Linked DNA regions of Homo sapiens: region 2 is linked to region 1. The links come from fine-mapping of genetic effects on gene expression. Tissue or cell type: whole blood. Region 1 holds a variant in brackets; the other region holds the start of a gene. All regions are shown on one strand. Distances are between the middles of the regions.

Evidence for each region. PIP is the estimated chance that this variant, and not a neighbour inherited with it, causes the effect.
Region 2: DLEU7 starts here. The variant in region 1 is fine-mapped to the expression of DLEU7 in whole blood (TOPMed, PIP above 0.99).

Annotation. Positions count from the first base shown.
Region 1 is chr13:50,704,859-50,712,965 of GRCh38, reverse strand. It overlaps a transcript of DLEU7 not described here. Among named protein-coding and RNA genes, the nearest start is that of DLEU7-AS1, 99 kb to the left of the region's middle. The variant G/C (reference allele first, on the strand shown) is at 4,680.
Region 2 is chr13:50,839,612-50,847,718 of GRCh38, reverse strand. DLEU7 (deleted in lymphocytic leukemia 7) reads left to right here and starts at 4,027. Exons shown (of 2, transcript NM_001306135.2): 1 at 4,027-4,531. The coding sequence starts at 4,073. DLEU7-AS1 (DLEU7 antisense RNA 1) reads right to left here. Exons shown (of 5, transcript NR_046551.1): 4 at 7,625-7,691. RefSeq lists an enhancer at 4,171-5,097.

The DNA of each region.
Region 1 (8,107 bases):
CTGTCATCTTGCTCCAATTAGAGCCGCTTCCATTAAGAAGATCGTGACAAATTCCCTACCCCTGTTTGCTCTTCAGGAAAATTATCCCCTGGAAAAGTGGATGTTATAGTCGCTTTTCAGAATGTATTGTCTGAATTTCTTGTCTTCCAACATTCTCCTAAGCCAGTTACCTTTGCACTGAAGTAGAATTCAAAAGGAGATAGAGGTTCTGAATTTCTTCCTTTGACCAGATGGAAGTCGTTACATCAGAATGCTGATGACTGCAAAATCTTGGACATATTGTTTTCACAATTAGGAAATGGCAAACACAAAGTTCTTCAGTGCAAAGCCAGCATGCGAGTTCAGCTTCCATTTGCTGCTATAAATTTTGTTCTTGTTGCTGCCAGTAAACACCAACTGTTCAAGTGAAATAGTAAATCCAAATGTGCCTGTTGGATGAGAGTAAAAAAATTATATGCTGCATAAATGCTGATGCAAAAGGATTTTTCAACACACTAAACCAGGGTAGGGAAAGGAACCGAGAAAGAAAGTTGAACTGAATGCAGCTCTCACTAACAACTTCTTGGTAAAAGCACTAAAAAAGCTCTTGATAGAATGTTGATTCAACATACTGTTTAAACCTCAAGGAAAAAAACAAACGCAGAATTGGGATATTGGCCTTAGGATATCTGCTTAAAGTCCTACTTTGAGCTCTCATCAGGGTTACCAAAGAAGGCGTACATAGATTGTTACAAATCAAAGCAAAGAAAAATCCCAAAGTTCCCTCAAAACTGATGTGGGCACTTGGCCCAGAAGTTGTTTGCTAATGATCAGTCTAACAGCTGAAAGTCAAAGTCAGTGGCTAGTACCATCTGCAATAGGATTTAGGAAGTTTTGATCTCACAAATTTACTGTAAGGCTAATCAATGAATGTTTGTACTCAGGTCTCCCTACAGTTAAATTTAATGTGTAACTGGAATTACGATTCAAAGAGATAGTTTCATAAATGGTCCCTGAAATTTAATTTTGGATTACCTAAGTTTACAATGGATTTCTCTTCTCCTTTCCCCAATATTTTTCTTACGCAGAAAAAAAAAAAAAAAATCCTGTGTGACCTTGGAGCTGGCTGCCCTGAGTCCCAGGCTCTGATTTGATTCTGATGCTCCAGAGCCTGCTTTCTCATGTAGGTATAGGTAGTAATGCCCCCCGCCCCCGCCACTGGGTCATTGTGAGGGTTAAACAAGATAATACTTGTTAAATGCCTGGCACAGCCCTTGCACATAAAATGTCCTTAATAATATTAATTCCCCTTCCAGATTAGACTTTGCAAACAAATGATTGAAAAACAGAACATTCACGTGGATTGGATTCTCTAGCGTGATAAGGCTCCAGGCCAAGAACCATGCAGTAAAGATCTTCCAAACCAAAGTATTTCAGCATCTGAGAATGGCTAGGGCTTATCTTCATGGCTAAAATAAGCATTTTAATATAAAGCAGGCTTTTTTCTTCATTTTCTTATGGAAAGGAAAGCATTTTCAGAATAATGGTTAAAATCTGTCCTTTGTAGATCTGAAAATGTGAGCAAGTTTCATACCGAAGTCAAGATCTACTGAAAGTGTTAGATGAATATATAAGGACCAGACGCTGCTGTCAAAAATAAAACAGATGCTGGTGTCTTGAATGCCTCCATGTGCCAAAGCTGAGTTCTTTGACTTATTTTTGTCATTGAATTAATTGGTATATCTGGTTTAATTGGCCAAATTGTTTTTGCTTAAATGTTCACATTTTCATTGTTATATTGATATACTCAATATTTTTGAGGGTACAGAAAATACCAATATTGGCAAATTTGGTATTTTTGCCAATTTTGTGTGTTCAGAAGAAAAATTGTTCATTTCCAGATCCCAGATTTATGGAAATTTAAAAATATATAGTAAAGTGTTGGTTTCTCCTTATGGTTACATCTGAATGTATATAAATTATCAGAGTCTGTGTGCATTTATTTCCATAGAAAATAATACCAGCAGAGACACAGCCAAACCAAGTTGAACCTTGCTGAGTGGATTTGAAGAAACACAGGCCAACTCAGGGCAAGGCAAACCCAAGAGATAGAAAGTCTAAAATAGTAATAATCAGCCTTTGAAACATTTTCCCTTGAAAAAGGCATCTCAGTCCCATCCTATATTTACAGACCAGAAGAGACACACATGTGTTCTACGTATGACACAGAAAGTAAAACCAAAAGGCTCATTCTGAATGCCCAGTCCAGCTTGAATTGAAACCTTTGTGAAAAAGTAGTGCTTTTGATTCAAAGGAGCTCAGGTTTGAAAGGGAGATGTGAAGTCTAACATCCCATCTATCTGATGCCTGGTCTTCCTTTACACAGTTCTGGCAAAGATGCCAACCAATTGATACTTGAACATCTATAGAAATGAGCAACTCATGCCCTAGAGAAGAACACTCTGCCTTTGAATAATATTATTAGAAAATGTGTTCTTATTTTGGACCAAGGCCTATTTCTCTGTAACTGCCACTTATGGCTTCTATTTCTATCACTCAGGGGTCACAGGCAGGCAGAATTCCATTTCCAGTGACAATTAGTCTTACAAACATTAAGGCAAAGCTCACAAATTAGCCCACATAGTATTTTAGATAATTGTAAATTAGCTACTAACATTTGAAAATTAGAAAACTACCCACAGAAATTTGTATTTTCAACTAACGAAATTGCTGATTCTCTGAAAGCAATGGGCCACATTCCCAAATGGTAAAACTAGTACCCCCTTATCCACAGTTTCACTTTCTGCAGTTTGAGCTACCTGTGATCAACCATAGTCTGAAAATATTAAGTGGAAAGTGCCAGAAATAAACAATGTATATGGTTTAAATTGCACACTGTTCTGGGTAATGAAATCTCTGAGTCCCACTCTGTGTTGCCTGGGATGTGAATCACCCCTTTGTTCAGCATAGATGCTACCTGCCCATTGGTCACTTAGTAGCTGTCTCAGTTATTAGATGGAAAAAAAAGCCATAGTATATATAGAGTTCTGTATTACCCATGGTTTCAGGCATCCACTGGGAGGGGAGTGTCTTGGAATATATCTCGGTAGATAAAGGGATACTACTGTACTTGGCTGAGCTGAGTAGCTGCTGCCACTTTCAGACAGGGAATGTGCTGGCCTTTTTGCCACAGTCCTCACTACTCCCTATTACTGTGCACTGAGCCTGCTTTCCTCATTTTCTGATACTTAACTGGCCTCTGAGACATTTGCCCTTCTAGTTCTTACTGTGTCCTCTCTAAGGCTTCTTTGCTTCAGGAGATTTATCCTCACTTTCTCACTCTTCCCCTCTGCAAGAAAAACCTCATGCATGCCTGAAGCCTAGACCTGCTGAATGACAGTGCACCTAGAAAACTGACAACTGATTCATCCAATCTCACAATCAATCCTCAGAAATGTGCTGGGGTAAATATATAGCTATAGACCTTAGAATCATTTTAGATAGCATAAGGGTAGGATGTGGAGGTTGTAAAAAACCTGTGCACATGGAACAAAATAGCTTCTCATGCCTGCTAAAGGCCTAATTCCAGATAGTTGTTATTATTTGCAGCTGTAAATCCTCATAAGCACTCAAATCAGTACCTACAACCAAGAGCACGCTATGAGGTTTTCTGCTTTGTTTAGTTGCCTCTATGATGTTTAATGCCTTCGGTATTAAAGAAAATCTCACTCAGCCAGTGTCTGTTGGTGACTTACTACCAGTTGCATCATAGTCCTCCATATTCTGGAAAAGTGAAGAGTCCCTGATTTTGAATCCAAGCACCTCCACTGAATAGCTGAATGACCTTGGGGAAATTGTTTAACACCTCTGAGCCTCAGATTCTCCATCTGGAAAATGAGGATAGTAAATAGGTAAGCCCTATTACTATTCTCATGATGTGAGAAATACATGAGACACACATATAGCGCATAGAGCCGCCCTTGGTTCATATTAATCGCTCACTGGTATTCATATATAATTCCTGTACATTATAGCAGACCACTCCCACAGTGCCTCAGCCTTTCCCACATCTGGGCATACAGGATCAACTTCTGAGTGCCAGCACTTGTGAGTCTTGCTGAAAGTTTTCTCCTACACCCAGTTTTTTCAGTCCCTATACACTGTGGCAGGCTGGAAATGTAGGGGAGTTAATAGCCCTCCTCTCTTCCCCCAGGAGTTGCCTCTACCAATGATAAATGGGAGCTGATAAATGAATGCGCCAGCTTCCTCACCCCTCAGAAGAGATAAGTCAGGAATGTGCACTACTTGGTCTTCTAGAGTTCCCCTTAGTGCATTTAGCTCCAGTCGCCCATAGTTGCCAAAGCTTATTTGGCAATGTGCCCTTTATAGACAGCCTTGCTGTCCCTGTCTCCTTTCTTCACACTGTTATTGATATTTCCTGGGGTCAATTACACAATAAACTACTTACACGCAAAAACTTAGCTCAGCATCTGCTTCTGGTGGAACACAAGCTAAGACAGTTGGTACGAGAAGTAATCCTAGGAAGCAGATCTTTAGGATACAGTCTGGAGCTACATCACTTGCTTGACAAGTAGCAATAAGCAAATCCCATTGCTGGTGGTAAGTGGTATGGTGGCAAACCCCAACTTACTGTGGCATTGATGATAGATTTGGATGGGATATAAGTGGCAGGTAATTAT[G/C]CTGTGTACTGTAATATTCACGATGGATTTGGATGGGATATTGATGGATTGGCTTCTGTAATACCACTAGCATTTGAAAGATATTTGAGCACTCACAGAGGGTCTGATTTAGCTTTTTCAGGATCCCACCTAACATTTCCTGGACCAACAGACTTGCTTTCCAGGGAAGGAAGTACTATAATTGACACACAGCGATGGTATTCACTGGTCCTACTCTATACTATATCACCCTAGAGCTAGTCTGGTAGAAAATTTGAATGCTGTTTTAAAGGCACAGCTGGGGTTCCAGCCTGAGAATGCCACTTGCAGTGTTTTGGTGGTGTCATTCAAAATGTGGCATATTGTCTAGATCAATGTTGTTGAGGGTACAATGCCCCCAGCAGGAAGAACTCACGGGTTTAGGAAACAAGGGGTAAGAGGAGGAGTGGCTCCTGACACTATCACTTCCCATGGTCTACTTGGGGAATTTGTCCCCTAGTCTGGTCTGCTGGACCAGAGATTATGGTTTCTAACTGGCAGATGGAGAGCTCTTCTGCCAGCAGACACAGGAAGCACTACATTAGCCCTAAAGCAACAGCTGCCATCTGGTTATTTTGGGTTCCTCATGCCTGTAGAGCAACAGGCAAAAAAAGAAGTTACCTGTTTATCAGGAAGAGATAGAGTAGCTATTATATTATAGAGGCTGGTTCTTAAGGGGATTTGTTGGAATCTCTCTAGGTGTTTTCTTTCCTGGTAGTAACCAAATGGGCAGTTACAGAAACTATGGACTGACAGAGATGAAGGAACTCAGAGGTCTCAGATCCTTCAGACTTTAAGGTCTGGGATCATAAATATTAATTATGACCTAGGAACCAGCTTCTGTGTAGGGACTGTACCCTGGCCCACTAACCTTTCTGCAGTAATTATTTTCCTTTTTTTTTTTTTTTTTGAGATGGAGTCTTGCTCTGGCACGATCTTGGCTCACTGCAACTTCTGCCTCCTGGGTTCAAGTGATTCTCCTGCCTTAGTCTCCGAAGTAGCTGGGACTACAGGCGTGCACCACCGTGCCCGGCTAATTTTTGTATTTTTAATAGAGATGGGGTTTCACCATGTTAGCCAGGCTGATCGTGAACTCCTGACCTCAGGCAATCCGCCCGCCTTGGCCTCCCAAAGTGCTGGGATTACAAGCATGAGCCACTGCACCCAGCCTATTTTCCTTTAAAAAAGTATTGACAGTCACCCCCATTAAGAATCAATGACAAGACAGACTAAACTTAAGTGGGATGTAAGTGGATGAGAACGGACCCATCAGGGACTGTGGCAGATGCTATCAGTGCCTTATTCACATCCCCTCAGCTCCTACTGGCCCAACTTCCAGCACCTTCCAGAATGCACCACCCTAAGGCACTGCCAGAGAGAAACCATAAATATATCACAGTTTTCCCTTTTGCTCACCCTGAGCTCTGGCTGCTATAGTGAAAAATTATCTAGAAGTCATAAACTCAAGTGCTTACTATCCAAACCAGGCCAACAACTTTAGTGAAGCCCATGGAGTCAGATGTAAACCCTGGGTAATGGTCAGAACTGGCTTCTCCAATGGCTCCAGCCCATTGGACACTCAGCCAATACTGCTACAGGAATGATCCAGCCTTCTGATTGCCTTGATATTTCCAGCAACAACCTGATGCCAGCCCTTCACACTCTTGGAGGGGACAGCAGGAAGCTGAATGTCATTGATTGAAGGAAAATACAACCGGGTGAGGTGGCTCAGGCCTGTAATCCCAGCACTTTGGGAAGCCGAGGTGGGAGGATCGCTTAAGCCTAGGAGTTTGAGACCAGCCTAGGCAACACAGCGAGACCTTATCTCTGCAAAAATTAAAAAAAAAAAAAAATTAACCGGGCATGGTGATGCATGTCTGTAGTCTCAGCTACTCAGGACGCTCAGGTGGGAGGATTGCTTGAGCCCAGGACATCGAAGCTGCAGTGAGCCATGATCATGCCATTGCACCCCAGCGTGGATAACAGAGTGAGACCCTATGTCAAAAAAAAAAAAAGGAAGGAAGGAAGAAAGGAAGGAAGAAAGAAAGAGAAAGAAAGAAAGAGAGAAAGAAAGAAAGAAAAGAAAGAAAGAAAGAAAGAAAGAAAAAGAAAATACCCTGAGGTAGCATGGCTCCAAACACCCTAGGGCCACGTCTGGGAGAGTCGGCCTAGGCAGGGTAGATTCTTGCGTGTTTGAAGACAGCTGTTGAGAAGCTGTGAACCAAGCCCAAGGACCCAAACAGACAGGGAGCTGAATCTCATACCAGAACAACCACCACATTTATATGAGAAAAGTTAAATATGGTTATTCTGAATGAAATTTGCAGGTACTTAAAAAAATTATAGCACCAACCTTGCACAGAACATATGGGAAGCTATTCGAGGTAAAGAACCAGTTTTCTCTAACATGAACATGATCTTTTGCTGCACTATCTGGTGCTACTTTGATCTAAAGAGAAGAGCCACAAAGAAGGTAGCTGTACCAGGAATGGGGACTATGGTATGTGAACAGCTGTAATTGTAAAGCTGCCAGCTTCAGTCCAATGGAGAGAGTAATAGTGAATTTCCACTGATGTGTCAGGCTTTATTCTAAGCATTTTACATATAGCAACCAGTTAAATATTTATAACAACCTTATGGTAGAGGTATTATCATCATCCATTTTGTACAAATAAGGAAACTGAGGCACAGAATACTTTAGATTATTTTGCATCCCAATAGCCCACTCCAGAGCCTGGACTCTTAAGACTTCTTTCTGTTCTGCTATTCTCTTTTAATAACAACCCCAATAGAAGAAGGATTGGGCCGGGCATGGTGGCTCATGCCTGTAATCCCAGCACTTTGGGAGGCCAAGGCGGGCGGATTACCTGAAGTCAGGAGTTCAAGACCAGCCTGGCCAACATGGTGAAGCCCCATCTCTACTAAAAATACCAAAAATTAGCCAGGCGTAGTGGCGGGCACCTATAATCCCAGATACTCGGGAGGCTGAGACAGGAGAATCGCTGAGCCCGGGAGGCTGTGATTGCAGTGAGCCGAGATTGTGCCATTGCACTCCAGCCTGGGCAACAAGAGTGAAACTCCGTCTCAAAAAATAATAACAATAAAATAAATAAATAAATAATAAAAAAAGAAGAAGAATTGATTTGGATTCCTTAGTATTGGATGTGTACATGATGCATGGTAGTTGTATTTTTCTCTGTCGTGTGTGTGTGTTTGTGTGTGTGTGTGTGTTGTATCTGCGTTTCTTAGGCAAATTATTAAGCAAAAGACTCAGTTTAGTCTGAAGCTAGCTGATCAGACACATAACCGAATATCAGGAGGCTTAATCAGTGGCACCACTTGCTACTAACTGGCTTTATAGTTAGATCTCAAGTGCTCATTTCCTCATCTATGTAAGAGGGGGTTGGACC
Region 2 (8,107 bases), 130 kb before region 1:
AGGGCTCAAATGTATCTGGGCTCTGCCAAGTCCTTTGAGGACAGCTCCACAGAACTGTACCTTCTGCCAGCTCCCTTCGGTTCTCATTGTGCCCGGCTTCTCCACGATTCCACATAGGAACCTGCATCTTTTGCTCATGCAGGAAAGGAAACTTTGGATTAACAGAAGTGCCAGAATATTCATTTATCTAACAACACTCTACCTTGCCCATTAACAGGTAGAAAATTGCTTCTCACTTCACTGAGCTTTCTACCCTCTTCTCTTTTCCATCCCACAGGGTGCTGAATGTTTCCAGTGCTCATTTAAAAATGCTCCCATCAGAGTTACCCAAAGAGCTTTTCCCACAATTGTTGAGACTGTAGAAAGGTTAGGTGAATGGCATAAGCACTGCTAGAAGTAGTTGGTTGGAGGGACCTTCTGGCAGTGCCTTGCCTAAGGGGCACTGGGTCACAGGGTCACTCCATGAACATGCCATCTTTCCTATAACATATGTCAGGCTATTTGCTTCAGCTGTGACTCCTTCTGTTGCAGTAGGCAGTAAATCCAATCCAAAGAGGCTTAAGCAAAAAGAGACTTCATCGGCTCGTATAACTGAAAAGCTCAGAGGTGGGGCTGACTTCCTGTGCTGCTAAATGTGGACCTCAAATGCTGCTATACAGCCACGGTTTCTCTCTATACATCTGTTGGCTTTTGTTTCATGAACGTCTTCTCTCCATGAGTGCTGGCTCATTCATAGGCGGGCTGTCCCCATCAAACTCACAAGATGGCTGCAGAGGCTCCAGAACTTGTATCTTCTCAGCTTTACTTGCACAGGGGTCACTGAAGTCAGATATTTGACAGTAGAAAGATCAGCCTCATGAAACTGGACTTGCTGTGTATTGATAAAGAGAAGCAGCCCTGGAAATCTGATATATTCTTTACCTGGAAACCCCTGCAAAATCCTCATTGTTCTCTGTTGCCATTGCTGATGCTTGGTAACAAAACCTTGCTTCATATCAAGTAGTTTTCATCCTCCCTCCACCAATTGCTTTGAGAGAGGCTAGGCTCAGCCCCAACTCCTACACTGAATTCTAGTTCACCTTAGACTCTCATGGTAGCCTCTTTCCTCTTGACTGTGATTAATTAGGCAAGAACATGTGACACAATTCTGGTCAAGGAGATGTGAGAGGAAGCCAGCTGAAGGCTTTTGAGAAGTGTTTCCTTGCTCTTGAGAAGGAATACACAGGAAAAGATGGCCTTTTCTTCTAGTTATTGTTGTCTAGACATGATGCCAGCAGCTGCTAGTAGCCATAGGAGAACTAGCCCAAAAATTAAGGACAAAGCTGATGTGCTGGGAATGGCATGGCAGAAAGAAGGAAGGAACAAAGGGCTTTGATGACACTGAGGAGCTGCTATATTAACCAACTCTGGAGCCACTCTGCCTTTGGACTTCTTGTGATGTGAGACAATAAATTATTCTTATTGATTAAACTATGTTATGTTGAGTTTTCTGGTTTAAAGGGAATTTGATCTTTTGCTGTTTCATCTCTTGGCCTACACTTCTTTTTTGGCCTGTACTCTTTGCATCTGTTGTTTTCTCTTTTACAGTGCATTCAGCTGAAAGCATCCTAAAAGATACTGTCTCATTGGCTCTAGCTGGGTCATGTGCCCATTCCTGACCATGCATGCACTGTGGGGATGTGATGTGTGATGGGACTTAGGCTAGATGATCCAGTACTCTTCTGCAGTGAGATGGGCTCATCCCATCTGACTTCACGGGCAGAGTGTGGAGGAAAAGGCATATCTACTGAGAAATGAGGGTATGATTTCTATAAAATAGTGAAATATATGTTGTGAAACAAACATATCAGATATCTAATACTTTGTCCTTTTGAATGTGCCCTTTATTACAGAATGGCCTCAAATCGTGAGTACAGTGGGTAAGAAGTAGGCTATCTGTTACTTCGTCTGGTAGCCCAGCAAACGTAACTACGGAGGTGTTTTAGACCAAAGGTAGATCTGCTATGCTATTGACTCATCTAAATAGACTATGAAAATTTTTCCTGAGTTAGGCTCTCATATCTCTAGCTTTGGAACACAAGCCATTTTGAGATCATAGCAAAACACAGTGCGACCCACAGCCAAAACAGACAAAACACTCAGTTGCCAGATGATCCAGGGCTTCCTAAGAATACTAGAAAAAGCAGGCAGCAATTTAAGCAGCATGTGCCATCCCTCAGGCCCCAAGGTTTTCTGGCACCCTTCTGTCATGCCCCCTGAGGTTCAGTTGGTCTCATGGCTCTGACTCAGTGTGGTATGTAGAAGAGTGGGGCCTCAGGTCAGCCTGTGTCTAGTGATTTCAATTCTGCTCTTGGCTGCAATTCCAACTGTCAAGAAAGTTTTGCAGTCAGCCATTTGATAGTGGAAGGGTTAGCCCATGAAACTGAATTTCCTGTGTATCTGGAAAGAGAGGCAGCCCTAGAGATCTGACATGCTCTGTGAAAATTAGGGGTTCATTTTTGCTATTGCTGGTTAGTCTCTGCTGAACCTAATATATTTCAACATTTGAAGACTTTTTTTAAAAAGAAAATTTTTTTCTTTCTATTTTTTATTATGAACTTAAGTAACTTCATGGCAAAAAAATCTAATCAACATTAAACTATTTACTTCCCTCCAAAGTAATTTCCTCTCTGTCAATGCACAGACGTGCATTTTTACTTAGTTATAATTAGTGTGAACATACTCGTTTTTGTTTAAGAAAGGTTTTCTTTACCTTGGCATTCAGATTCGTTTTCATAGGCGAAGAAAGCACTGGGAAGGAGAAGGAACCTTTGCTGGCAAGTTGGGAGGATTATATGGGGTCATACTATCCCAGGGTTAAGGAAACCTTAAAGGACCCAACATCCCTCTCCATATCTCTTCTGATGATCCTTTTGTGCTCACAGACTAACCAGTGTGGCCTTTTCACTCAAAAGCCTCTCCAGATCTGCACAGCACCAAGGGTGCAGTCTGGCTCCCAAAGGAGTAATGCAATTCCATCCTCAGGTCTGCCAGGGCCCACCTGTCTGTCGTGGGCATGCACCATTGCCCTGGCTTTACTGGGCTGTTGGGTTGTCTAGTGGTTTTCCTTGCAGAAAGCAAGCAGGAACAATGCTGCTCCGGACTGGTTTTCCATACCACTCCTCTCAAATATCTTCTATTTTCTTAAGTGTGATCACACACCCATGGTTTCCAATCTATCAAAGCATAACATTGCTAGTCGCTTTTTTCTAAGTTAAGGAAGTAGCCATGTTGGGTTTAATTAAAAACAGCAACTATTTGTACAGCTGTCCCTAAGTTCATGGCTCATAAAAGGATTAACTTCAACCTTGCTGCCTAAGTCTTTTGGGAGTGTCACAAAAAAACATTTAGGCTTTTCTGGGCAGTGCCAGGCCTGGGCCTTGAGGCTTGCTGATGCTAGTTCAGCCACCAGGCTCTCGGTGCTCAAGTGGCACCCAGCAAAGCAGAGAAGAGCAGAACTTCCAGATACACAACTCCTCCTTCTTTTGTTTGGGGGATGCAAGGCCTTGAAGGCTGCTTCAACAAGTTTCTGAAAATTCCCCTCGGGTTGGGAAAGGCACAGTCTTCCTTTTGCAAGTTTTTCTAGAGCCCTTCGTACTTTTGCCCTAGAGTGGGTCTTTTGCACCCCCACCTCCCAGACCTCAGTGGTCATTGGCAGGCATCCTTCGAAGGAGGTGGGGGCGGGGTATCCCCGCCGATGGATGCGCCCGCACAAAGCAGCACGTTTTCTCATCAAAGCCCTGGAGAGAGGGAAGAAGCAACGCTCAGCATTTCGCTGATTTTCAAGTGCACACCGAGCAGCGCTTCAGGCAGCTTTGGGTCAGAACACGCCTGATTCGGACTTCAGGCGAAGGCAGAGGCCAGCACGGGTCACCGATTCAGAGCCGGGGGCGGGGCCGACCACACACGCTGTGAGACCCAGAGGCCGAGGAGCCGCGGGTTAGAAAATGTGACCTTGGCGACCCCAACGCCCCCGCCTCCCTCGCTGCTGCTCCACCTGCACGCGGAGCGCGCCGGGCCGCCAGCGGAGGCGATGGCCAGCCCTGCGCCCTTAGTGGCCTCCATCAGCCACCAAATGGTGGCTCTGCAGACCTTGCAGCTGCTGCAGCAGGAGTGGGGCTGGGGGGACGGTCCAGTCGCCCCCGGGAACCCGCGGGACCCAGACCACGTGTCCACCGCTCCAGCCCGTCGCTCAGGCCCGCCGCGGGCCCGGCCGGGGCCCGGGCGCGAGGAGCGGGGCGGGGGCGTGGGGACCAGGAGTCGGCGGACCGCGGCGCGGGCGAACTCCCCAGAGGAGGAGGTAGTGCGAGGCGCTGAGGGGGGCGCCGAGTTGCTGCCCTTCCCCCGGGACCGCGGGCCCTGCACCCTGGCCCAGATGGCGATGCGCAGCGCGCTGGCCCGCGTGGTGGACTCGACTTCGGAGCTGGTCAGCGTGGAGCAGACGCTGCTGGGGCCCCTCCAGCAGGAGCGGTCCTTTCCCATTCACCTGAAGGTGAGTCTGGCCCCCGCCATCCCCTCTGGCGTGCAGGGTAACCTCCCATCCTCCAAGGGTGGGGCTGCTGGGATGGCGATGGGTGGATCGCAGGATCCCAAACACTGCTGCCCACTGTGATTCAGCCCCAGTGGGAGAAGGAAGGGGGCGGGGGACACTCTGGGGACTCAGCAGGAGGGGCAGGGAGCCCCAGACCCACCTGAGGCCCGCCTGGCTGGCACAACCGAGATGTGGGGACTGCCTTGCCAAAACCTCCCCCTGGAACTCCTTCCTCTCTCACATAAATCAGCTTCCTGCGCTAGAAAGGCCCTTTCCACACGTGCAGCTTGTAGGGATAGAGGACAGCTCCCCCCACCCACTTTCCAAATTAATAACGCTTCCTCCAGAGCCTTAAATACACTTACTAAGTCCCTTCTGCCTTTTGTATGATGAAATCATCTACATTTATTTAAAGTTCCTTCACATTCATGAATCACTATTATTTTTTGCATAAATCCAATTCCCCACAGAGCTAAGGGGTCTTACAGAGTCAACCTACATTCTCATAAAGTGGGGTGAGAGCTGGGTGGGTCCCGGGTGTTAAAGCGTGAATACTAAATGCTAAACTCTTGCTAAGTCACCCAGCTCATATAGGTAGGGCACATTTCCTCTTAAGGTACCAAACTGTGTTAGCCAATTTAGCCCGGGAAGGGAGCAGCTGTCTCCCAGGCTGAGTGAGATTGCGGAAATCTGGGGGTCTGGGTTTCAGTCCTGGACTTGCCATTAACTAACCTAATTGGTTTAAGGTCACGAATCTCTCTGAGACATTCTGGCTTTCAGATTTTGACCAGGAGCATTGCTGTATTTTATTTCCCTGGGGCATCTAGCAGAAGGAGTTGGGGAGGGGTGATGAGGAGAGCTTAGAATATGTCTCAAGAGTTGCTATTCTGTACAAGCCAAGGTTTGGAAAAAGTTGCTATACATTAAGTTGCACTATACACTGTAAAAGATTTATTTAAAATCAAACATAATAAAGCCTATTATATACCCAAATAGGTATTGTTTCTCTACGTAGGGGTTTCTCAATCTCTGTACTATTCACATTTTGACCTGGCTAATTCTTTGTTGTCGGGGGTTGTCCTGTGTATTAGAGGATGTTTAGCAGCATCTCTCGCCTCTACCTGTTAGATGCCAGCAGCATATTCCTCGCCGCAAGTTGATACAGCCAAAAATGTCTCCAGACACTGCCAAAGGTGGCGGGGGCGGTGGGGTGGGAGGCAAGATGAGAAGCACTCCTACACTCACTTTAGAAAGTTAGAAAATGAAGCTGCATTTCACCAAATGCTCTCCAATGTAAGATGTACTTTTTTTTGGTATCACCAAAATTTTTTTTAATCCTGTCATTGAACTATGATACACCATTGATTATAAGTTACATGCTAATTTAAGGGATTTTTTTTTTTTTTTTTTTGAGACAAGGTCTGCCTGTGTTGCCAAGGCTGCAGTGTGGTAGCCATTCACAGGTGCGATCATAACACTACAGCCTCGAGCCCTGGGCTCAAGTGATCCTCCTGCCTCAGCCTCCTCAGTAGCTGCAACTACAAACCTGTACCACCACATCTGGCTGATTTCAGGGATTTTTAAAAAATGTGAATAAAAGTGCATTTTAAAATAGATGAAATATGAAGTGACTTGTGATGTCAGTAGCACATACAGGGCATAGGTAAGGCTGGCAAAAAGAGAGACTGACAATCAGTTTTACCTAAGGTGACCCTGGAAGGCTTCTCAGAGGAGGCAGCCTTTAAAAAAAAAATACATGTTATTTTCCAGACATTAAAGGGAAAAATATTTCAGGAGAATACTTTGGTTAAGGCCCAGCAGCACTGAAAGGGACTGAGGCTCTAGAGGAACTACAGTTAAGTTCAATATGGCAGAAGGCAAAAACTGATGCTGGAGACACAAATGGGGGCCAGTTAGGGAAAGGCCTGTGTGTCATGCTGAGGACCTTGGATTGTCTTGCAAGCAGAGGGTAGGTAAATCACAGAAGCCTGGATAAATCACAGAAGGGTAGGTTTCAGTTTGAAAGTCAGGTCAGAAGACAGCTGTCTAAGGGCTTGACCCAACTCAGTGGCAATGGACTAAACCCCGTGTCCTCTGCTCTGGAAGCAGTCCACTATAAACTATGCCATTTTAGCTTAATGCCACAGTCACTTCTACTTGGAAATCCTTTTAGCCCTTTCTAATTGACTTTTGATTCTAAACATTTTCCATCCTCCTCAAGCCTTCTTCATCCAAACCTCAACCCGCTCACACCTTTTCTGAGAAAATAGAGGCCAGTGGACAGAAATATCTTTCTACCTAAAAAATTGCATTTCTACTCATCTTCATTTTTGTTTCTAAAATTCAAGTGCTGCCCCCCCATCCCCATGTATATTCATGTTAATTCCACTGGAGCAAATCTTTCACTTGCTCCTGGACCTGTTTCTATCAATTTTCTCTCTCCTTACATTTTCTACCGCCCCCTCTTTGCTGACCCTCTTGGTCCATAACACTCTTTACTTACCCAGCCCTTGAGTCCCCATCCTTCCCTTCCTTGTCATGAGCAAACTTTGAAAACATTTAGATGTACTGCTTCCACTTTCTAGAAGTATACAACTACTGGAGTCTGCTGTTCACCCGCAGGGGGATAATGAGTTTTAGGGCCCCTGGGAACAGCGAGGGCTTTCGAGAGAAGCAGAGAGCAGTTTCTCTGCATGATTTGTTCCCTTGGGAGCACCTAGGAATTTTGCTTGGTTTGCTGTTTGCAGAATAGGTAATATCTCCACTTGGTTTGTAGAGTAATGATTACACAGCACTTAGACTTGAGGAGATGGCATTCTGTCTTTCCAGGGGGCTGGTTATGCAGACTTAGCTTCCTTAATACTAGTGTTAATTCAAATGACTTGGAAGGGTGTTTTGTATATTTTTAAATTGGGAACATACAGATTTTATACAATAGAATGGTTTCAGAAATCCTTGCAGGAGGATTTCCGGGAATGGAAATAACTATTTTGTATCACCTAGAAGTACGTGGGAACCTCCCCAACATCAGATCTCTTTGGTGGTGTTACTTACCACGGAAGGTAGGAGGAAGACTCACTTGAACTAAAGCCCATGGCGCAGATGACAGGCATTAGAGATCCTGCAGTGGAGAGAGCATAGCACAGCAGTCAAGTCCCATGGAGCATTTCAAACCTACTCTTCCACTTCCTGTCATTGGCCCTTGGGTAAGTTATTTAGCCTTTCTGTCCCTCAGTTTCCTCCCTGTATAGTGAGGACAATGGTATCTAACCTAAAGGGTTACTGAGATAATGCATTTAGTCAGTGGCTTCCCAAAGTTAATCTCCATCTATTTGAGCTATTATGATTATCATTATTATTACTGTTAACAGGTTGATGCCTCATGAATTCTTATTGACTGTTATTTTTGTGAATTCTATTCTTGATATTAATGAATATGATCCATGAACTCTGTGTCTGCTTTTCTGGAACTATTGACAAAAACAGACTTAGGATGACCCAAAGAGATTTCCAGGAAGCCTACACTATCTAGAGGTC